Linked DNA regions of Homo sapiens: regions 1, 2 and 4 are each linked to region 3. Evidence: fine-mapped expression QTL. A gene starts in region 3. Each other region holds a variant in brackets. All regions are shown on one strand. Distances are between the middles of the regions.

Region 1 (6,151 bases), 290 kb before region 3:
ATTTTAGATGGGCTGGTCAGGGGAGGCCTCTCTGAGGAGGTGAGAGTTGAACAGAGCTATGAATGAAGGGAGGGGAAAGCCATACAAACATCAAGGGAAAGGATATTCTAGGCAGAGGCAGTAGAAAGTGCAAAGGCCCTGAGGCCAAAATAAGCTCAGGGTGTTTTTCACTTTAGAGTGAACGGCAGCCTGTGGTCCAACCTGCAGGGTATAAATGGAGAGGAAAGAGCCAAAGGTAGAGTGTAAGAAATAAAGTCTGCAAGGTAACTCAGGTCCAGATCATATAGAGACTTGGAGGCCACGGTCAAGGACTTTAAATTTTTTTCTAACTTGATGAAAAGCCATGGGAGAGTTTTGAGTAAGAAAGTATTTATTATATGTCTGTGGGAGCTTAACCTTTTAATATATTTCCTCATGAGAACTACAGCTCTGCAAGATAGAAATGTGTACAGAGGCATCTCTAGGCTCTGTCTCTTGCTCCAGCCACTTCTGCAGAACCCGCCTGCAAAGGCCTCCACCAGCTTTGCTCAGGCACAGCCTGACAGCACCTCCTCCAGTCTCACCATGCACCTCTCATTTCCTGTCCTAGAGCTTCTCTGATTTGCAGCTTGGCACGCACACAAGTGCAACCTGCAAGTGCCAGTGGTTAACGCCAAGTGGGGATCACCCTTGACTAATGGGTGACAGAAGCTAATGGATAAATGCTTCTCCTTTTGTTCCCTGGACAGCTCATTTTGATTTGGATTTCATAATGCCGCTTAGAAATTCTAATGGAATTGAGCACCAGTCTCTTGTGCAGTATCCAAATCCATAACTCCTCCTTGCATTGCCTGCCCTCCTACACTGATTCACTCCTCCCCTGGCTTGGGTTCCTTCTTCTGGGATCACATGCCCAAGTAAGCTCATAGGTGTGTTTAGCAGGCCCTGCATTTAGAAGAATACAGGATAAGGTGGTATGATTGTCCTTGCTTTAAAGATTAGGAAGTAAAAGGTTAAATAAATTGTTCCAGGTCACACTGGAGTCAGAAATGGGACCCTATTCAGCTGATTCCAACAACCATGACCTTAACCACTCTTCTATGCTGCCTCATACTCAGAATTTTCCACATAGCAGTGTTTCAAGGGTGGATGGCCCTTCCTGTTGGAAACAGAGACATCCACATGCCAGCAAGGAAGATACAGCAGATTGCCAGGATGAGCAGGGTTTCAAGGGCGGCCCATCTTACTGGGACTCAGGGAAGGGTCCTAGCACTGAAGAGAGGCTCATCACTAACCAGGGACTGAAGAAGAAGTCTGAATTTGTGGCTTGGGAAATGCTGTGGGTTACTGGCAGGCTGTGCTCAGGGAGCAGGTGGTGCCAGGTCCTCACTCGGCTATCCTGGATGCCAGTCCTGTGGCAGCAGAATGAATTTCAGAGCCCCCCCTGCAGGAGGCAAGTGAAGAGTCTCACTTGGTAAGAACATAGGTATGTGTGAGGTAATTAACATCAGGGTTATTTTAAATATAGATGTAGTCAGATTGATAAGAAGCAAAGCATCATAATAGCTAAAAAATAATAACTGCTTTATCCAGCACTTATTTGTCCCAGGCACTGTGCTACGCACTTTGCATCTATTATCTTTTCAGCAACATGATGATGTAGACACAATAATTACCTAAATTTTAACTATCAGGATTAGAGTGGTTAATTCAGCAAATGTCACACTGCTAAGTAATAGAACTGGGGCTCAAACTAGGTCTGTTTGACACCAAAGCCTTTTCTTCTCAATCAGTTTTCTAGAATGCCTGAATGAAGACTCTTTTTTAGGAGGCCATGAACAGCTGTTGCAGATGTTGAGCCAGGACAGTGTGGGTAAAATTATTCTAATGCCAATATATACATTAAAATAAGTCTAAGAAGAAACCATTAGGAGGATATTTCAACGGTCCAGAAGAAGGTGACACGAAATGATATTAAGGGGGTGGCCTGTGAGTAGGAAAGATGAGATCTGACTTAAGCGAAGCTGTGAAAAAAGAATCTTTGGGGCCAGAGTACCAATTAAAATAGAGCATACGGGAAAGGATGGAGTCAGGAAGAATGCTGAAACTGATTCTGATTAAGTAATGAAGCTGCCATTAACAGAAATAGGGACACCAGCAGGAGCTAGAGGGCAACGGTCAAGTCTGTTTAGTTGACAAAGGTCTTTTGCGGAAAACATATCCCAAAGGCTGATTGAATTTTGGTTCTTGGGCTCAGAAACAGGACTAGATCTGGAGATGCAGATTTAGCAACCATCCATTAGTCCCACTGGAACCCTCCAGTGAGGCCAGCTAGATAAACCTGTCCCGGCAGCCCAGCCCACTCATGCATGGGAGCCTGGATCCCCTCACTTCTCTTGCCCACCTGCTCTTTGCTTACTCAGTCCAGAGGTCTATGTGGTTTTCACTCTGCTCTGTCACTTTCAACAAGAGATTCACACATGACCTGCCTTGCCCAGTTTGGATTCCAAGCTATTTGACAGTAGGGACTACATCTTGAACTTCTTTTTCTTTTAATGCCAAATGGTATTCTAGTAGGTTGTTAGCACAATACCCTATTGGGCTTTTCATTTTTATAAGAACAAATTCTGAAATGCAACACAGATCATCTTTCTATTTAAGTTTGGGGCCATTTGAAGCAGCAATGTATAAATTCAAAGCATTCACCTAAAGTGCCTTCATCTGCATCATTTTAACCTCAGTCTTCACAGGTCTTCCTCCACCCTCAACCCTTAAGACTTATTAATAATCAACATTCGAGTCTCCCATTCTTCTCTCTCCAATTTCTACCCTCAGGCAGTTGAGACGTAGGAGCTTTGCAATTAAATTCTCCCCTCCAGCCAAACTGACCCCAAATCATACTTATGAAATTGCTCGTTTATCGATTGTGTTGTTTTTGTTTCTCCATTTTATGTGGGCACACAGGGCCCTGCTCACAGGCAGGGTTGCTGTGCTTGGAAAGGTGATCTCCTTAGGGCACTAAAGCCGCGTTGGACAGAGAGGAGCTTAGCCTTTCCTCCTGTCAGATCTGCAGGTGGCTTTGACCACCACAGCCAGTTTATGACTGCCTGTGGGCAGTCTCGGCCCTCAGCTAATGTGTAGAACAGGCAAGGCAAATCTGCGAAATCCTCCCACCCACTTGCCCTGTCAGCACCATTCCTGCTGACCAGTGCCTTCCTTGCTGTGGCCGAACCCTCAGGACAGTGCCCCACCAGCTCTGTCTTTGTCAACCGCTCAGTACAATGTGGATGTGTGGAGTGGCTACTTACGAGTTAGGCCCTGGGTGAATTGTGCAGTATTCCACAATGAACACAGCACAGTTCTCTCTTCTCAAGAAGAACCAGGTTTAATAGGAGAGGCAAATA[C/T]ACAAACAGGAAACTACAGTACAGTGTGGCAAGTGCAATATTAAAGAGAAGTTAATGAGAACAACAGACAATGGGTGCGTAACCTGCGCAAACAGGAAACTACAGTACAGTGTGGCAAGAGCAATATTAAAGAGAAGTTAATGAGAACAACAGACAATGGGTGTGTAACCTGCGGGGAAGGCAGAAAGGGCTCTCAGGTGCAGAGCTGACATCCGTTAGCCATGACATCCGTCAGGCCACAGAGCCTGTGGCCCACAAAAATGCTTTAATTTTAATTTCTTTTAAAACAAGAATAGATGATTATAATAATAACGGCTAGTAACAATGAATTCAGCCTACATTATACGCATCTTCATGCCAGTGCTGTTATCAAATAGAATTTTACATTTTTTTTTTTTTTGGAAGAAGAGCCCACAAAGGCCAAATTGCTTAGGACCAGCAAAAGTGGTACTGTGACCCTGCCTCACGAAGAAACTAGGGCAGAGTAGAAGATACACAGGCAAAGTAGGAGAGGTCTAGGCGAGGGACCAGTGTAAGCGTGTGTCAAGAATATCAGCATGATGCTAGGGAACAAGCCGGATATGGGGAGTCGTGAGAAACTAGGTAAAGATGTAGGCAGAGATTTGCTATATTAAGAACCTGGAATTAGTCCTACAAGCCTGTTCCCTTCCATACTCCCACGTACCCCACAACACGAAATCAAAGTTTGCTAATCCTGTGCCCCATTCTCTCCCAGCTAATATTTTCCTTAGAACATAATCTGGGTAACTGCAATGTGCCAAATGTCACTGCCCACAAGCAGCTTTCTATGCCACCTCCCATCTACTGACAGCAATGTCTTAAATAAGGAAATATGTTTCCAATGGCAGGTGAGGAAGGGGATTTAGGAGCAGGAATGCTCTGGGCTTTCCACTGGACTCCTCTGCCTGCATCAGGGCATCTGAGAGGCTGGGACCTCTCAGAAAGGCTGGTGACAGGCCATTGGCGGTCTTTCTCTTTCTGGTTACAAAGTGCCCAGAGGTCTGCTCACTCAACAACTATTTTTGAAGCATGAAGTGAAAACAGGATGAAAGAACAGGAAAAAGTGTCCATTATGCAAGAAGAGAAGAGCCTCCCCCCAACCTCCTAATGTGTATGTCATTTAAATACCCTTGTGAGAGGTGTTCATTATTTCCCCCATTATTTAGAAATGTGCTTCAAAGACCCCTCCAACAGCGTCGTGCCATCAGTTGTTTAAACACACGATTTGTTAAATCACTACCCTCGGAGCCCTGGAGCTTAGGGGTTATATTGTCTCAGAGCAGACACAACTCGGGGGTCACCCTGCTGCTGCTGAGGATTGTCTCAGCAACTCCCCACCGCATCCTGATGGTTAATAAGGATCAGCTTTTGAAAGGCAAGGTCAAAAGGAGAACTAAGTGACTCCTGGTGCTGGCTGAGGGTGCATGAGTTCATTGTTCCCAGCGGCTGGTCAGTGCCCAGTGAGGAGAGAGCCCATTGTTGCCAAGCAGCCTGAGAGACAAAGCCCAGCCCAGCCATCAACCTATGCTGGGGGCTAGATGGGGGTTTCCAGAAGGAGCCAGTCCTTGACTTTAGAAATAATTCTCTTTAGGATAACTTGTTTTCATGAAAATGGGAAGCTACAAAAAGATGCATTAAGTGTTGATCATGTACATTATCAAAGAACACCTTTAAGCATCTGTTCCCCTGAGTACACGAAAGTGTTTATTTACAGGTCTTTAAACTGTAGGATAGAAATGCTCATAGCAAGCCACTGATTATAGAAAATCAAACTGAGATGCATTCATTGATTTGAGAGGAAAATAAGAATAATGGGGAGAAAGGTTTCAAACTTTAAAAAAATCAATTTATGTAAATTGATCAAAGAAGATCTCCGCTGCATAAAGAGAAATATGTCTCCCCTTTCTCCTGTTTTTGGCATAGCAACTGTCAGCTCTTATCTGCTCACTGCCTTTTGTGTCCCCACACACCAGTCTACAGACCTTGTCTCTGCATGGCTACTTCACTAAAAATGCAAAATTCCCCTGGGAACCAAAGGTGAACCCACAGAAAAGTAGATAAAGACCTTGAGGGAGCAAGTCACTTAATACCTCCCTTCATGCATTTGCGGAAGGGCTTGGCAATCTATAGGTGGTAGCTATTGTGTTGTTGGGAGGAGAATTTCTACCACCACTGAGTGCGGAGGCAGACCTCAAATGATTCCCCTTCTCAAAATTTCTTTATGCAGTTAATGGCACTGCAGATCCACAGTAAGCAGGCTCAAACTCTTTGAGATAATATCAATTACTCCCTTTCCTTAATCCCTTAGATGCTGTCTGCCACCAAATCCAACCTATTCTTCCCCGGTAATCGCCTCTCACATTCAGTTCTGCCCATCCCAGGCCTTCCTCACCTAAGGCCTGAAAATCTGCAACAGACTTTTATCTCCTTTTCATGATACCCTTCATTCTCCGCATTTCTTAAAGTTTAGTCTGTTCAATTTCCTGTCGTGCTACAGTGGGCAAACCACAGAACAGTCCAGGCTGAGCTCTGGTTCCTAATGATTCCTAATCATTTCCTTTTGATGGTCCTTTCTCTGGCATGGGGTGAAGATTATGCCTGCAGCTCCTTCCTGTTGTCTCACAAGCCTGAGCTCTCCATCTCCTATAAGCATCACTTCAAACAAGCACACAGACATTCGCAGAACAAGCAATGATTTGTGGGCACAGTTCAGTCTAAACTCATCCTTAGAAAACAAGCATCTCTTC
Region 2 (6,151 bases), 56 kb after region 3:
GGAAGAATTCAGATCAGGGCCCAGAGGTGGGCCAGAGGAGCCAGTGGGCCCAGACCAGGAGAATGGATCAGAGCAGATGGAAAGAGTGGACTCGAAGGTTACACCTGGGAGACAAAGTCAGGGTCATGGTCTTTGTTGTGACACCAAATCAGGCAGCACGGGCTGAGAGAGGAGGCTGAAGAGGTAGCTCCAAATCAATATTGAGAGAACCAAATCAGGCCAGAAGGTAGGAGTCCCATCAGCTGGGTGGGTCTTACTCCCACCATGAGGCAAGGGGAGGGAGTCCACTCAGGGAGGGTAAGAATCGCCTCGTGGATCCCTGACCCTGACACGTCTTCATGCTTGTTCTCACCTCGGGGCTTTGTGTGCAGTGTTCTCAGACTAGGAACCCCTCGCCCTGCCCCGTGCCCAGCTAACACCTCCTCATCTTCCACATGCTGATACACCACCTCCTCTAGGAAGCCCCCATGTGCTTCATAGCACCCCAATTATGTGGCTGTCAGAGCAGGAGAGCACTGCGTTTAAGAAGAGTCCAGGCCTTGGGGCCAAAGTATCTGTGTTCAACTCTTGATTCTCTCCCTTAATATCTGTGCGACATAGTGACAATAACCTCACCTCTCTGTGCCTGTTTCTTCATTTGCAAACTGGAAATAATAATAATTTCTGCCTCCCAGGCTCATTGTGAGGGACATGTAAATGAGTTAATACATGTAAAGCATATAGATCAGTGTCCAAAATAGAGTGTGTACTCAGGAAACAGTAATATTATTGTTGTATGTACTATTATAATTGTCCTTTTTCTTTTCTCTCTCCCTCCCCTCAGTACGCGCCACGATTTTAGGATAAGGGCTGCATTCATTATCTCTCTATCTATAGTAACAGCTAATATAAAAGACATTCAATAAATGTTTTAAAAGAAGAAAAGGAGATGAGAAAAGTGGGGAGGGGGAAGAAATCCTAGGACAGGAGCCATCTCTCTGCCCCAATTTTGAGGCACCTTCTTGATGTGAGTCAAAGGCGCTTGCAGATGTGTGCTGTGTTTCCGCGTGAGGCAGGACCTCCGGGATTCTTACCAATGTTTGTTGCTGGCCATGGGCAAAGAACAAGGTTCTTGGGGAGTGCACATGATTCAGGCAGTCACATCTCATACACAGAAATTCAAGCCAGCAGTGCTGCAGCCGAATCCTTTTGGGACCGCCCTTTTCCAGAGGGAAAAATCCTTTAGCCTCACTTAGCTCATAGCCTCCCTCACCTGTCAGTGCCCCACCTGCAAATCCCAGCAGATGGCAGGTCTGCACTGAAAGACAACTACAGAGGATTCCATCAACCTTCTGGGGTCCAGGACTGAGTAGACTGTACTCCTGCCACCAAAGGTTCGAAGATGCAGAGCAACGCCCATTATTAGAGTGTTCATTCATACAATTATTTACTCACTCATTCAAAAACAATGACAATTACATATGGGCCTGCTATGTGCTGTCAAACATATTACTTGTTGCTAATATCTGTATTAATTACATCAAGCTAGTGGTTTCCAACTGGAGGTGATTTTGCAGACATTTGGCAGTATCTGGCGATGTCTTTTCATTGCTATGTCTTGGGCAAAGAGAGCTATTGGCGTCTAGTGGGTAGAGGCCAGGGATACTGCTAAACATCCTACAATGGATGGGACTTCCTCCCCACAATGAAGAATTATCTGGTCCATGATGTCGATAGTACTGAGGTTGACAAACCCTGATCAAGGCAACCAACATTTCTGGAGCGTCAACCATGTGTCAACCACTGTGCTAAGCACTCTTCATTTGATCTTTCTAACAGCCCTGCAACATAGGTACTATATTTTTTGAGATAAGAAAACTAAGACTCAGGGAGATTAAATTATTTTCCCATTTATTCACATAATATGCAGTTATTAAACAACTCAGTGGGTAGTGGATTTGAAAAGCAAACCCAGGTCTTCTAGCCCCAAAGTCTACTCATCTACAAAAGCATGCTAGCTCTCTGCACAAGGTCAGAAAGGAGAAAACATGACGTAAGTAAGTGATGGAGAAGCATGAGTTTTGGGAGGAAAATGTTGTTCATAACTGCCACTGGGAATGAAAAAAAAATCCCTTTTCTGCCTCCTTCTCTCCCAGTCTACCATCTATACTCATATACACACACATACACAATCGAACAAAATCCTTGAGGCCCCAGTTTGCCTTCAGGGTGACTTCGGTGTGGGTGGTAATTTTAGCTTGAGATTCCACCCTCCTTCCCCCACCCCAAAATGTTTCTCATCTTACACATACAACCACACTTTTGGCTGGGAAGAGGGTGGAGATATTTCTCCTGCTCCTGAAATGTCTTCATAAAGATCTTCTCTCTGCCAACCTCCAGCTTCTCCTCGTGCTGATTTAGTGCCTGCTGTAGGAGGTGTGGGATTTTATTTGTAGCTCCTGACTGGCGGGCTGTTGGACAGGAGCTGTGTGTGTAGTGGGAAGAGTAGGGACTTTGGCATCAGACTATCTTGGTTCAAATCCTATCATCTAAGAGGATTATATTGGGTAAATCAGTTAGCCTTATTGAGCTTTGGTTTCTTCATTTGCAAAATGAGAATGATGATACCTACCTTGCAGCGTTGCTCCAAAAGTTAAGTGAGGTCAGTTGTGTTCATCTTTTAGTGCAGTACTTGGCAAAGAGGGAATACTCAGGAAATGCTAGCCAGTATGCTCATCCTTCTGCCTCAGCCCCAGGTTCGCTTTTTTTTTTTTCTCTTTATCTCTTCTCAGGAGCTCAAAGAGAAGGGGAGGAGGAGTCAGGGTTCCCTTCTGGTGGGCCTGCTGGACCATGCTTCCCTCCCTATTCTGG[G/A]CCTCCTGTGGGGCCCTGTGTATAGCTCAGCCCAGGCCCTTGAGTCAACCACAAGATCACTATCTTTGCTCTGCCTCTGTTTAGAGTCAGGTAACACAGACCACAGCTGCCACCACCTCCCCAGGCATGATCATGTGAGTGACAGTCATCACCATAAGACTCTCCCACTTCATCCCTAACTTAGCAGAGATTCACAACGTGGCTGGAAGTGTTAAGCAGTGGTGCTGGTTCACCCTGTTAAAAATGTAGCCTGAAATCATTCAGGATCTTAAGGCTTGGAGGGATCCCCAAGATGCCTTGTCCTTGTGATTGTCCTCATGACTGTCTTTTTGCCCTTTTCTTTGCGCTTCTCGTAGAGAATGTTTTGGAATGGTTAGAGACAGAAGGGAAACTCATTCATAGAGAACCTGCCATGCACCAGGTCCTTTCCATCCTAAGGTGGCTTATCCCTTTTCCTGGGTGCACTACATCCAGCCCATCTGGGGCTGGAGTACATAAGCATTGCTCTACAGAAGAAGAGGAGCTTCCACAACCCTCTGCCATCTTATCTTTGGTGACTTCTGAAACTGCAGGGTCCAGAAGATCCAACTTTACACATTGCAGTATGCAGTATACTCTCACATTTCTCCTCTCATTTAGTTCTCATAGCAGCTTGAGAGGTTGGGATTCATAGCTCCATTTTTTTTCTTTTTTTTTTTTTTTTTGAGACAGAGTTTCATTCTTGATGCCCAGGCTGGAGTGCAGTGGTGCCATCTCAGCTCACTGCAACCTCCGCCTCCCAGGTTCAAGCAATTCTCCTGCCTCAGCCTCCCGAGTAGCTGGGATTACAGGCAACCACCACCATGCCCAGCTGATTTTTGTATTTTTAGTAGAGATGGGATTTCGACATGTTGGCCAGGCTGGTCTTGAAATCCTGACCTCAGGTGATCCTCCTGCCTTGGCCTCCCAAAGTGCTGGGATTACAGGCGTGAGCCACTGCGCCCAGCCTATATCTCCATTTTGCAAATGGATTGAACTGAGATTATTGAGTCAGTAAGCAGTGGATCCTAGGCATAAATCCCTAGTTTTGTGGCTCAAAGTTCACAGCCTCCATGAGGGCTCCATACCTTTGTTGTGTCTTTTCTTCTATCCTACCCTAAAGCAGGCATTCAGCCTATCTTGCTAGAACCTCGTGACATGTAATCTCTGTAGGTTTTGGGCTACAGTAGGTGTAAAGGACAATAGGACATGGGTTCTTTCCTCAGGTGCCTAGTTGAAGGCATGAGATAAGCTTGCCTCCTTTGTTCTTCCCCTCAAGACGTGATCTGGGGGCTCCATTCTCATAAATATTCAGGTGCGCGTCACTGGTGGTGGTGCAATGTGGAGCTGGGGGAGAGAAGCCCAGAAATCGGGTGGGCTGAGCTCAGTCCCAGCTCTACAGCCACTGACCTTGGGGAAATCACCCCAGTTCTCTTATCCCTAAAATGGAGACATTGATCATTTCAGTTCCTCCTTCACAGGATCGTGGGGCAATTTAGTGAGATGATACGTGTGAAAGCAACAGTAACTGCACACCACTGCACAAATGTAAGGGTTAGTGCTGCCTTCTCTCTGCTACCTGACCCATCTGATCAGCAGCATCAGAAAGAACCTAACACCTGCAGGTTTTATCCCGCAAGTACATGGCCTGGTAATGCTCTGAAGGTGGAGAAAATACTTGCCAGGGACTTTTACAAGATCCTGGTCATTGTGCTAACAGTAAGGGAAACAACAGTCCAGATAGGACAGAGTACCTTGCAGACGTCTTCGCATAGCACTGGCTGGTTTGCTGTCTCTAAAAAATTTTTTATCTTGTGAGAGTTTCAGGTTTGCTTTCATGAGTCAGCTTTAGGGAAGTAAGCTGAAAGCACAGTGCAGAAAAGATTTCAGAGCTCGAGTTGTTCAGGTGGTGTTCTTTGGAGCGCATTTGTTGTTCAGGCTGTTGCTCCTGCTTCCCTCCCTTCCAAATCCAGCCTCCCTACGGTCTCTCTCACACACACAGAACCAAGATCAGCCTCTCTGGGCTATGTAACAAAAACCATCTTTCTCTTGCTGGTCCATGACATAACCCTGCCAGTCTGGGAGCTATTACTTTTTCCAGATGTGGAATAATTGCAGGGCTAATCACCCCTGGAGACTGCTGGGACCCTTCTCTAAGGGTCTCCAGGTCCTTTCATTTAATCCTCATGACAGTCACTAACAATAAAGAAGAAAGTGGTAGATGCTGAGTGAGGAGCTAAGATATTTGTCCAGAGACACAGCAAGCTGCATGTAATTCTGGTTCAAAATTCTTAGGTCTGCAAAAAAACTGAAAAATGTCTCTTGTCCCTCCCCCACCTTCCTACAGGAAGGATTTTGTACAAAATAACATTGCAGGCCGGGCGCGGTGGCTCACGCCTGTAATCCCAGCACTTTGGGAGGCCGAGGCGGGTGGATCATGAGGTCAGGAGATCGAGACCATCCTGGCTAACAAGGTGAAACCCCGTCTCTACTAAAAATACAAAAAAAATTAGCCGGGCGCGGTGGCGGGCGCCTGTAGTCCCAGCTACTCGGGAGGCTGAGGCAGGAGAATGGCGTGAACCCGGGAAGCGGAGCTTGCAGTGAGCCGAGATTGCGCCACTGCAGTCCGCAGTCCCGCCTGGGCGACAGAGCGAGACTCCGTCTCAAAAAAAAAAAAAAAAATAAAATAACATTGCAATTCCCAGGACAGCCCTTCATTCCTTAGCTACTTCTCTACAGATGTGGGGCCACCTACTCTCCCCCTATCCCATTTTCTCCATCACCGCCTCCTGCCTCCAAGCCTACCTTTCTGAAAGATGTTCTTGACACTGTCATTAAACAGCTGCCAGCAACACCTGCTGGCATTCTCTGTTGCAAAGATAACAACCCAACTTTAAAAAGAGAGAATACAAAACAAGAAAGGCTATGGGAGGTGTGGTTGTGGGTTTTGGTTTTATTGTGTTTTTTTCCGTTTGTTTGTTTTTTTGCCAAATTACATTTTGTACATTTCTCTGTTGATTCTCTTATTCCTTTGCATTTTCTATTCTCTATTTATGAACCCCCTCTCCCAACCCCCACTTTAAAAATCAAGAAAAGGAAACCTGTTTCAGGATTAAATATGGTGTCAACATGTGGCTAGGATCTGAATACCTCAAAGAGAAGTCACAGGGGTTGTCTCCACCTACCCAAGCCTTTAATGGTGGAGAAGGAAAGATGGATTTAAAAAAGACGGAGGAGCCAGCCTTTTCCTCCTACCCTCCTGGGCCTCCTTCCAACAAATGAT
Region 3 (6,151 bases):
GGGCAACAGCCAGTGCACCATCCAAACATTGCCCTCTGACACTGGCAAGCAGGAGCACCCTTGGCTCCCAAGCACAGGTCCAGGCACACATCCTCCTGAGCCCACCTCCCAGCCGACTCAAGGCACCGTAAATATATGCATGCACACACTCTCAGGCAGCATTCCCATGCTAAACACTGATAGCTTGCCACCCCCCGCCTCTAAAGGGAACAGACTTGATGCTGAAAGCCTGCCAAAGTGTGGCTGGCTTCCAGCACCAAAAATACCTCCTGTGATCCGAGGGGCTACTGTACTGGCATCTATTTGTGGGGCTGGAGCTGCTGCTGTGACATAAAGGACTTCCCCTAGGGATGGGCTAGTTGCCCATTTGGGCCTGTGCTCCCCAAAGTCTAAGAGCTTGCTTTCCAGGGCCAAGGCCTGCTCCCAGCCTGGAAAATGCAGGTGGCAGCATCTTAGCCAAACCTGCCTTCCACAGGAGAAATATTCATTCTTCACAGGAAACATTCTGTGGCATTCCAGAATGTTGGTGCCCTGTCCTCTCCCACTTCTCTCATTCTCTTGCTTAAGTAACCCATCTAGTTACTTAGCTTGCTTCTTTGACAAGCAAAGAAGAGGCCTGGGGCCTGGAACAAGAATGCAGAAGTGACAAATGACTTTCAAGGTGAGGTTCCAGGAATATCTTGACTAGGGAAGGTAGGTAGGTTGGGGTGAGTGGAGAACCCTGTTGAGTGTGCTATGATTTTCCAATGATGAGGATTTGGCATAAGATAAACATTTCCCCATTCATTCATTTGTTCATTCATTTGATAAATATTTGTTAAATATCGACAGCCTGCTCACAAATATGTTGCACTACATCTATCCTTCCAGATGGAAATGAGGACGAACTACAAGGCCCTGACAGAGGACTGGTCAGTCCCAAGGGGCTGTGGGCCTGATATCAGATGGACAGAATGAGGAAGAATATAGTGAAGGGCAGAAACATACAAGAAAACCAGAAACCTCAGAAAGAGATAGATCTGAGGTTATAGAATCTGTAGGGTTATTGCCATGCTTTCTTTAAAAATATGTGCCAAAGCAGTAATTATGGACTGTATATAGTTCCATTAAAGGAAGAAATTTAGTAAATTTGCTCTTCATAAATATTTGCGTAATAAATGAATGAATACCCAGATCAAAGGGAGAAGGTTAACGAGCAGATGTAAAGACTAGAGGTTCAGGTATACCGCTGTTGCCTCAGAGGATGTCAAATCTAAATACGAACCATGAACCCAAGGTTTTGGTTTTTTTTTAAATTCTCAGAGCATGTTATGGTAATTAGATGTTTAGCTAATAAGATCCATATTTGTTCTAGCCTATTAGGACTAAATATAACAACAATCTTTCCATTTTGATGATACTATTACTTCTTCCAACACGCTTACATATATCTATTTTAATTCCCCCAGTTGTCTGGAGAGTGAAGACAGAAATTCCCATCTTACAGATGGACAAACTGTGGCCTAGAGAAGTTAGAGGTACTTCATCCACTGTACCTCCCAGTAGATCAAGTTAGCGCTCTTTCCATTGCTATGCTGACCACAGGCTCTTCCATAGTCTCACAGGACTCAGATCTTAGACCCTGTTCAGTGGCAATGTGGAATCTGGATGGCGTCGTGCCACCCTGTCAGCCACAATGTGTCCTCCCGCCTGTGTTCCCTCTTTCTCTCCCTTTATTCAGGAAAGAGAGGGGAGGTGTGGGGATAAAAGATGGGGTGAGTGGAAGAGTCTGTTTCATTTTATGCTTCCTTGCTCTTCATTCTAAGATTTATTTCTGGACCACAGGAGTGGAGGGTGGCATATGAGAAAATTATTTCAATTGTATCATAATCTTCCCAAGGTGTGATTAAATTGAGGCATAGGGAAGAGAGGTGACCTCTTCCAGAGTCAGACACCACTTGATTTAGAACCAGAGGGCCCTAATTTTCAGCTTGGAGCTTTATCAATTAGATATCTCCAATCCTACCACGGCTGGTCTTAGGTGTAGCTGGCCAAACTCCATGAACAAATGGAGGAAGTGTTCCAAAATCTTCTAGCATCTTCTTCAAATCATCTTTTTTAATAAATTGTGGTTTAGATTCAGTCTACCCAGAGATAAAACGATCGACTAGTCTGTCTGCATGGGGAGACAAGATCTACTTATAAAAATAAATAAATAATAACACAGGGTAAATATGATAATTTATTGGTGTGTTACCAACAATGAATGCTAAAGAAGTTTGAAGGAAAGAACAGGTATGGATCAGGCAACACAGCTTAGACAGATTCTTTGTGGTCCCACAGGACAAAACTAGCAGTAGCCAGTGAAAGTTACAGGAACACAAATTTCAGCTAATTACAATGAAGAACTTTTGAAGAATTCGCTGATTTCTGCAGATGTTGGAGTAAAGCCTAGATCCCCCAGTCCTGTGTTGAATGTGCGATTGTTCGAGATGACTGGTTAGTCTAGATTTCCTTTTCTTCTTCCTCTCTCTCTCTCTTTTCTCCGGCTCCCTTTCTTCATCCTTCCCTCCCTTCGTTTCTTCTGCCGCTACTGCTCTAAGAATTTGGTGCAATTGCTTTTAGGTATTCGCAGTGATTTTTGTTGTTTTTTAGATTTATACCACTGAGGACTGTGGCCACGAGAGGGCAGTAGAGGAAGCTTATCAGAATACTTGGACAGGAGTAAACTCGTGTGCGCTCTAATCGCGAGCAGGGACTACGCAGATCCTGCGAACTCGCTGGGGTCCAGCTTGCAGGCCGCTTCCGGAAAGCCGTGTCTAGAGGCTGCGGAGTTACTGAGACTGTGTGGCGAGGAATCAGTGGCCTTGAGGGCACCGAGACATTGTCATCCAGAATCCCGAAACCTCTCACCTTAGGTTATTAAAATAAGTTATCTTATTGCCACCCCTCTGATTACCCTGCCAGAAAGATTCTCTGAATTGGATATAGAAAGCTCTTCTCCCGTCCCCAATGCCCCCATGCAAGTCGGGACTTACCAGATGCCCAGGATCCCTATCAGGGCTGGAAGTTTGAGATTCAATTCAGAGCAAGGTTCATCTTCTCATTGCAATAATAATAATAACAACAACTTCAAGCCTTATTTGACAGCTTGTTGGCCTTTTTCTTTTTTTAATTTACAAGAAGAGGAAATTTGCTCCCACAAATTCCAAGACTCTAGTCTCAACCCTACCAGACAAGCCCCGTTCCTCCCCACTCACCCCTCACTCAAATTACAGATGAAGAGGGAGGTGTGCAGGATGTGTGCGGTGACAGGTGATGCGAATGGGGGGGATTCCCTGTCCCTACTGCCCTCACCCACTCTTCCTGTGTTCTGAGCTCCCCCCTAACCCCAACGCTAGACCTTCTATTCCCCCGGGGGCCAAGCCAGCTGGGCTCGCAAGGCCCGACTCGAATTCCCGGGCCCTGGCAGCATTTTCCTTGCCCCCTTGGCTACTTAAGGTGGCCGATGGGTCCGGGCTGAGCTGGGCGCAGGACAGGCAGCCGAGCGGCCTCCGGATGCCAAACCTGCTTCTCCTTTGTTGACAGCTTGCGGAGGAGGAAGTCCGCGCGGGCGGGGGAGGGGGCAGGGTGCTGGCGGTGGCGGGCGGTGCCAGCAGCGGGCGCGGCCCCAGCCCGGGCGGACGCGGCCGGCGGGGAGGGGGTTAACGCGCGCGGCCTCTATGATAATGAGCTGCATGGTGAAATAGGGAGGCCGGCGCTCAGGGCTCCTCCGCCGCCGCCGCCGCCGCCGCCGCCGCCGCCACCGCGGGAGCCAGAGCTGCCGGGAGGAGCGGCATCCGCGCCAGACTGGAGCGGGAGGGCGGCGGAGGGCAGTTGCTGGGAATTTTTCAGCCGAGAGGGCGAGCGATCCGGAGAGAGACCCCGAGAGCTTGGGAGCGGTAGGGCGTGCGAGCGCCGCAGCCAGCGGAGCAAACCTCGAAATAGATCTGGAAAGCCAGGCTCCCGGAGGAAATGGGACTGTGAACGAACCGGAGAGCAAGAAGGGAAGGAAGCGCCGGGATTGCTGATGTCAGAGGAGCCCGGAAAGTCGCGCTGGAAAAATCTGAAGACAGCCGGGGCTCTGCTTCTTCCTCAGGAGAGACACCGCCGGCCGCCCCCACACGCCCCCTCGGCGCCTCCGGGTGCCCCCTGAGAGCCGGCGACAGCGCCCAGCCGGGCTGCTGCGGGGCGACGGAGGACTGAGGGGCGCGCGGAGCGGAGACCGAGGAGCGACTTCAGGAATACAGATAAGTGTCTGGTGGCTTGACGTGGATTTTAATGAATTTGGACTCCATGTGGATTTGGTCGTCTCCCTGATTCCGAGCTGCGGGCAGGGAGAGGGGCCTCGCGCCGCCCTCAGCAGCCGGCGGCGGCCGAGGTAGACCGAGCGGGGACGGAAGGACAGACCGACGTCGCCGAGCTGGGTAAGCGGCGGCTGGGCCGGGCGCTCGGAGTCGGCAGCGCCCTCCGCCCTCTCCCCACAGGCGCGCACACCCGTGGCGGCTTCTCCCGCGCCCGCCTCTTTGGGGTCCCGGCCCCAGAAGACCCGGCTTGGCCGCGGCGGGCGAGTCCCCGCGTGGGCTCGGCCACTTTCGCGGGCTGGAGCGCGGCGTGCGCGCGATCGCAGGCTCACTGGAGCCGCTGCCTCCCGCCGAGGGCTTCCCGGCCGGCAGCCCGCCGGCTTCCCGAATGCGGGCTGAGGGCGGCAGCAGCGCTCCGCGGCGCGCCTCCACCGCGCACCTGCCGGCGCTCTGCGGCTTTGGGGAGCTCGGGGCGGCAAGGCTGTCCTGAGAGCTGGAGCCCAAAGAGGGCCTCGGTGGCACCAGCGAGACAGCCCAAAGCCACACTGGCCAGCGATCGATTTGGGGGCGTTCACTCCAGTGCCGGGGTCCCTGGTGGCCGCCGGCTCTCCCTTCCGATCGGGGACTGGAGATCAGGGGAATGGGAAAACATCATTTGCGCGGGTTCCATAAGGCTCAGGGAGAGATTCCTAGGCACTGAATGGGTCTAAGTGTTTCATCTCCCGGGGCTCCCTTTGCGGTGTATCGCCCAGCAGGGGTCCAGCCCCTTAGTTTGAGCACCACAGGAGTGCTGGGGGTTGAAATGGGAGTTTGCTTAGGGTCCCAGAGGCTCCTTATGAACCATTTGAGAATGTTTCCTTCCATGTGCTCTTTCTTGCCCCACCCCACAAGTGAGGTAGGGATCCTAGAAAATTCTAGCCCTTTTTATCCATCCCACAGGTAGTCTCTATAATGCCAATCATGGTCTAGATGCCCAGAGAGTCACCAGAAACTACCATTTTAGATCCCCGAAAAAAGTCCACCTGTTTGGAATGACCCTTGCCCTAGTGGGAGCTACCTACTCAAACTCAGCTCTGCTCAGGAGGGATAGAAATAATGGTGGGGAGGAAGTTGGATAAAAGATTTGGGGCTCTAGGTCAGTAAGGGTCTAGAAATGAGAGCCCCATGAAGTGGGCAATGGAAATCTGAACAGGTCCCCTGTAGGAATCTTAGAGTGACAGTGGCACACCAGTAGAAAGTGCACAAGGGACATGAAGGCAGCATCAGTTTGAGGGGACTGGGACTGCCAGTCATAGCTTGAGGCAGTCACTTGGGGGCCCATCAGTTTGGAAGAACCCACAGAAATTTGGGGGCACATTCATTTCCTTCCATTCACGCGCACAGTGGACAAGGCTTATGAGCGGCAGGCCAAGATGAGTATCTTGGCTGGCCTGGGCTGGAGGCTTTGAGAGCAGGAGTCAGGTTTAGCTCTCCCCTCTCCCCACACAATAGCAGTCTCCCTCCTTTGCTGGGCTTCTTTCCCAGATCTTGAAACTTCACTCTTCCCTCTGGGTTGGCTTTGGATTCTGGGGCCTTCTACTGATTGACAGAGCCCCAGGAAGAGATAACCTTGGCTGGAGGAATTCAGCTATTCCTAACTGAAATGCACAACTTTTATGCAATAACCCCAGAAAGCTCCCAGAGTTGCTTGCAGCCCTCTCCCCTCTGACCTCCAGGCAAGAAAAGAGAAGAATTCATTAACTTCCCTCTCTCTTCACGGAGCACCATTTGAACTAATTACCTGGGATCTCTCCTTGGTGGTGGCCTGGAGGCTGAAGGGGCAGTGAAGA
Region 4 (6,151 bases), 200 kb before region 3:
CTGCCAGTTGCGCCTGCTCTGTGATTGCCTTCCTTACAGGTGGAGCTGCAGACCCATACTGGGCCATGAGCTGCCGCCATTTTAGAACCTGTTGGCTGCCGACAGGAGGCGCAAGAGTTCAGAAACTCAGAAAGCACATGCTCAACAGCCCTACCTCCTCCACTCCCTCTGCCCCTAACACCCCCCGACCCCACACTAATCATATACAAGTTGACAACATTGTCCTTGAAGTCAGATATTCAGCAAAGATCTACATAATCAACTAACAAGCATGAATCGTATAAATCCCTCTGCACCATTGGGGGATTCGGGGGCAAAGAAAATAAGATTCCTGCCCTCGACGTGCTTTTAATTGGATGTAAGAAGACAACTTTCTTTGTCGTGGGGTCCCCAGTAATCAGACCGTCTAGGCATCTACTGTGTAGCAAGCACTTTATAAATGTTGTTGTTAATCCTTACACAACCCTTCAAGATACATATAATTACAGATATTCTCCAGATGAAGAAATTGAGCTCACAAGATGAAATAATGTGCCCAGTGTCACAGGATCCCCAAACTAGTAAATAATAAAAATGGGAAACCTGATTCTGACCTGACAGCGAAGCCTTTACCACCACCCGTGTTTCCTCCCTATAGGCCAGTAGAGATGAAGTGGAACGGGCATTCTGCTGGTGGTTGTGGGGGTGGTTGCAGGTAGAAGTTTAGGAATATTTGGGAAAGGAAAGGCAGACTAATTTGAACAGTGCAGAGGAATTAAAGAAGTCTATAAAAATACTCAAATATTGGGCCAGCAATGGATATACAGAGCTAATACCAGATATATTATTACATTAACAATTCTACAATATACTGGGATATTATGCAGCCATTAAAATAACTGTAAAGACCAAGCAGAAATGTGGAAAATGCTAACTGTACAATGTTTAATAATAAAATAATAACAAACTAAAACAGAATACTAAGTACTCTCTTGTACTTTGATAGTGTTTTCACATAAAACTTTCAGTTAAAATTGTTTAAAAGGAAAAAATAAGTCCATCCCCTGGGCATAAGCATGACTATATTTACACTGTTCCAGACAGATGGTTTTCTCTCCTCTTCTAACAGATTTCCACAGAGGGAACTCTAATGCCCTCCCTCTGTTATTTTAGTGCCTTGCAACCCTATTTTTCTCAAGTCTACCCTCATGTCCCTACTGATGCAATTTCACCCCACAGTTGGCTTCTGTCTCTGTGAGCAAACTGCTGGTTTAACATTTTTAACATGCTTTGGGATCCAGGGATCGAGAAAGTAAGATTGTCATTCTTCTCACCTTCTTGCATTCTGCATACCTGCTTTTGATACTTTTGATATGACTGAGGGGGTGGAAGGAGGGAAGGTAATGACAGAGAAAATACTAAGTGCCGTAATTCACCAAACCTATTATTTTCCAATTTTACGCTTCTCTTTCACACTACTCCCAATAATTTCACATAATCTCCCAATATTATTCATATGTAGCAATTGTTAAAAGCTCCCATACCTTAGCATCTCCACCTCTCCTCTAACGTTTGTCATGGTAATGTCACATACCTCTCCTTTCAGACGTAGTTACTATTATCTTCTCACCTTCCCCCACCTGATCCCATCCTGAATAACATGTCTCTTGATGAGGTTATAGAAACCACATCTGTTTTTCTCTTACAAGTAGATCTCAATAGCACTCATTAAGACAGGCCTTTGCCCATCCTATCTGATTCTCTCTTTCCAGGATGGTACCTAGCGCTGGCATATATGGTCACTGCTTAGCTGGGCAAAGGCCTGAAATGCCAGTGGAGAAGATGAAAGCAGGGCCTTAACTGAAATAGGATATAAAAGAGGCCATGGTTAAATCAGTAGAGCGTAAAAAAAATGAAATGAACAAAAGAAGGTGGGGATGTCTAAACAGAAACAGATGCCATGAAGCAAGGTCAAGAACAAGCCCATTGGTTAGTCCCCAGACCTGTAGCCACTGAGTAGGAAAGGCAGCATGAGGACAGACATCTGAGCTTGGAATGGGTGGTAATTTCAAAAGAAGAGAAAGTCAGAATCTTCTGCTGATGTCCCTTTGGAAGGTCCACCCTCTCCCCCTTCCCTTGTTTTTTTGGGAGGCACTCTGAACCTGATATCTGATATTCACATAGGGGGAGCTCTGTTACTGCCAGCCTCTAATTTCCCTTTCTAGCCAGGCCTTTGCCCTCTCTCCTCTGCCCTCACTCTCGCCTTCTGTCCTGTTCCACAACCCAGCTGGCCATTCCTCCACACTCAGAGCTGCTTATGCCTGAATGCAGTCCTCACCTTCCGTATCTGAGACACTCCCAGTCATTTGCAAGGCTCACTTTTTGACACACTGTCCCTGGTACCCCTGGGAAATTTATAACTTCATCTTCTGGACTCCCATGGCATTTTGCAGAGGTCTCTGTCGGAGAATGTATCAACATGTTATAATTGCTTGTCTGCATGTCTCTCTCTCCCACTATATATGAAGATGCTTAAAGACTGACTACTTTCTTACTCACCCTTGTGTTCCTGTGCCTGGCACATTGATTGGCACATCAGAGGTGCTTATGTGTTTTCTTTAAATGCCAAAACCAAATATTACTTGTTGAATTTTCACCTAGTTTTTTCATTCTCCTCTAAAATCTTACAAATCAAGAGAAGCAATGTCCCAAGACAAACAATATGACACCTAATAGATGTGTCTATTAACAGCCAGCCAATGTCCTCAGTCAATAATAATAATAATAATAATTAGCATGCCCAGATACTGTGTTACTGTTTAGCCCTTTATTCCCAGGGCTTTTTGTCTAGGGAAGGGCTCTGTCTCCGTCAGAGCTGGGGGCACATGCAAATCTATTTTCTGAGACTAGCTCTGTGGAGTATAGAGTGAGATTGTGAAATTCAAAACACACCTGGGAAATTCAGACAAGATCTCAATAATAAGGACTGTAATCAAGGAAGAAACCCTTAGTTAAGCAAATAATTTGCCTTGGGAGAAAAAGGCTGAACATGATGTTCTTCACACACAGGGACTTTAGCTGGCATTTCATCTTCAGTCCGAATAGTCCTTGCTGAACAAACCTCAAAAATGAAATATTTACACTATGCCTGCCACCAGTAGAAATGGTCTTCCAATCAGAGAAGCAAGCTGTGGGAGGTGAATGAATGTCTTGAATTCAAAAAAGATACAAAAAAAAAAAAAGAGAGAGAGAGAGAGAGAGAAAGGACAAGTTTAAAATTAAAGAAAAGTGTTATCCAAGGGTAAAGAAATTTGACCTGAGTTCTCCCCAAGTGAGGATAACATGAATGGTAATGAGTCCTGTCTTATCTCTGCAGTTACGGGGATGATTTGCAGACATCAGATTTTGTGATGTTACAGACATGGTTCCCAACTTCGAAAAGCAAGAAAAAAAGTGGATGCAAAATAATATACTTGCATTGGACAAACAATAGCCAGATAACTGTATATCACAGTGAGATATAATGTCAGGTTTAGAATCAGATAAATTGCAAATAACAATGGAGAAACAACTGAACCTTGAGGACTCTCAGCAGATAAACCAGATGAAGTGGATAAAGACTCGCTGTGTGGAGAAGGCAGGGCAGCCCACGCAGAAAGGTGGGAGGCAAGTAGACAGAGGAGGTGGTAGAGCGGTGATGGAGTGTGAGCATCTAGATAAAAAGCTGCAGTCAGCTTCCCAAAA[A/C]TCAGGGAAAATAATAGCCGGAAATAATAAAGTAGAATGGTAGCAGTGTCAACTGTGATAAGCAGATAATTTGTTACTCTGGACAGCCTGGGGCCCCTTTCCAGAGACAGGCAGAAGTCCAAGTTCCTAGACTTTCAGCCTGTGCAATCAAGAAGGAAAGAAGTAATGCAAAGGGCAGCAAGAACCACAGAGAGGGGGATTTCAGGATCATGGCAGACGGGAGGGAGGACTAGATTGCAGCTGGGAACAGAGCAGCATGCGGGGGCTTGCACTGTGAATTTTAGCTCCGGATCAACAGCAAGAACAAACCAGCAATCCTGAGAGGACCCACAGACCCTCTGAAGGAAGCACACTGCTACTGCAGGACCCGGGAGACACCTCAAATATACTCTGGGAGGCGGAAAGCGTCGGCAAGTTTTCAAGCCCGTCTAGCCCTCTGCCTGGAAACAGACTCAGGGCTGTTTTGGTGGGGCACCGTGGGAGGTAAGATCAGCCCTTTGGTTTGTGTGGGAGCTGGGTGAGGCCTGTGACTGCCACTTCCCTGACTGCCCTTCCCTGACAACCTGCATGACTCAGCAGAGACAGCCATAATCCTCCTAGGTACACAACTCCAGTGACCTGGGAATCTTACCCTATCTGCCACAGCAGCTGCAGCAAAACCAGCCCAAGGAGAGTCTGAACTCAGACACACCTAGCCTCGCCCCCACCTGATGGTCCTTCCCTACTCACCCAGGTAGTGGAAGACAAAGGGCATATAATCTTGGGAGTTCTAGGGCCCCACCCATTGCCAGTCCCTCTCCACACTGCTACAGCTAATGCTTTCTGGAAAGTGACACCTCCTGTCAGGAGGCCGACCAGCACAAAAATGGAGCATTATTTTTTGCACAGAGTCCAATGCACCCTCTGCCACCTCCACCAGAACAGGTGCTGGTATCCAAGGCTGAGAGACCCACAGACGGTTCATATCACAGGACTCCGTGCAGACAACCTCTGGTACCAGCCTGGAACTGGGTAGACTTGCTGGGTGGCTAGACCCAGAAGAGAGACAACAATCACTTCAGTTCAGCTCACAGGAAGCCACATCCACAGGAAAAGGGGGAGAGTACTAAATCAAGGGAACACCCTGTTAAGGGAGGAGACCACCCCTCATATTGTGTTATGCCCAATTTCTGCCTCCAAAGAAAGAAGTAAAAACTAAAAGGCAGAAATGAAATCCACAGGCAGACAGCCCAGCGCCATGCCCTGGACCTGGTAGTTAAAGATTGACGCCTGACCTAATTGGTTATGTTATCTATAGATTACAGACATTGTATGGAAAAGCATTGTGAAAATCCCTGTCCTGTTCTGTTCCATTCTAATTACCAGTGCATGCAGCCCCCAGTCATGTACCCCCTGCTTGCTCAATCGATCACGACCCTCTCACGCAGACCCCCTTAGAGTTATAAGTCCTTAAAAGGGACAAGAATTGCTCACTTGGGAAGCTCGGTTTTTGGAGTCCTGAGTCTTGCCGAAGCTCCCGGCTAAATAAAGCCCTTCCTTCTTTAACTCCATGTCTGAGGGGTTTTGTCTGTGGATTGTCCTGCTATGCTGTGGGACAAAAGAATCTGAACAACATCCTTCAGCCCTAGACCTTCCCTCTGACAGAGCCTACCCAATGAGAGGGAACCAGAAAACCAACCCTGACAATATGACAAAACCAGGCTCTTCATCACCCCCCAAAAATTACACTAGTTCACCAGCAATGGATCCAAACCAATATGAAGTCCCTGATTTACCTGAAAAATAATTCAAGTGGTTAGTTATTAAGCTAATCAGGGAGGGACCAGAGAAAGGTGAAATCCAATGCAAGGAAATCCAAAAAATGATATAAGAAATGAAGGGAGAAATAGTCAAAGAAATAGATAGCTTAAAGAAAAAAAATTAAAAATTCAGGAAACTTTGGATACACTTTTAGAAATGCAAAATGCTCTGGAAAGTCTCAGCAATAGAATTGAACAAGTAGAAGATTGAAATTCAGAGCTCGAAGACAAGGTCTTCAAATTAACCCAATCCAACAAAGGCAAAAAAAAAGAATTAGAAAATATTAACAAAGCCTCCAAGAAGTCTGGGATTATGTTAAACGACATAAGAACAATCGGTGTTCCTGAGGAAGAAAAAATTCTAAAAGCTTGGAAAACATATTTGGGGGAATAATCAAGGAAAACTTTCCCAGCCTTGCTAGAGACCCAGACATGCAAATACAAGAAGCACAAAGAACACCTGGGAAATTCAGCACAAAAAGATCTTGGCCTAGGCACATTATCGTCAAGTTATACAAAGTTAAGACAAAGAAAATAATCTTAAGAGCTGTGAGACAGAAGCACCAGGTAACCTATAAAGGAAAACCTATCAGATTAACAATAGATTTCTCAGCAGAAACCCTACAAGC

The links. PIP is the estimated chance that this variant, and not a neighbour inherited with it, causes the effect.
Region 1: its variant is fine-mapped to the expression of PLXNA2 in whole blood (TOPMed, PIP above 0.99).
Region 2: its variant is fine-mapped to the expression of PLXNA2 in lymphoblastoid cells (GTEx, PIP above 0.99).
Region 4: its variant is fine-mapped to the expression of PLXNA2 in whole blood (TOPMed, PIP above 0.99).

The regions. Positions count from the first base shown.
Region 1 is chr1:208,536,132-208,542,282 of GRCh38, reverse strand. No RefSeq gene overlaps it. Among named protein-coding and RNA genes, the nearest start is that of LINC01735, 75 kb to the left of the region's middle. The variant C/T (reference allele first, on the strand shown) is at 3,384.
Region 2 is chr1:208,186,113-208,192,263 of GRCh38, reverse strand. All of the region lies in intron 3 of PLXNA2 (plexin A2), which reads left to right. Among named protein-coding and RNA genes, the nearest start is that of PLXNA2, 55 kb to the left of the region's middle. The variant G/A (reference allele first, on the strand shown) is at 2,851.
Region 3 is chr1:208,241,937-208,248,087 of GRCh38, reverse strand. It overlaps PLXNA2 (plexin A2), which reads left to right and starts at 3,704. Exons shown (of 32, transcript NM_025179.4): 1 at 3,704-4,445. RefSeq lists a silencer at 3,587-3,646 and enhancers at 4,165-4,664, 4,665-5,166.
Region 4 is chr1:208,444,086-208,450,236 of GRCh38, reverse strand. No RefSeq gene overlaps it. Among named protein-coding and RNA genes, the nearest start is that of LINC01735, 170 kb to the left of the region's middle. RefSeq lists enhancers at 4,186-4,686, 3,846-5,045. The variant A/C (reference allele first, on the strand shown) is at 3,724.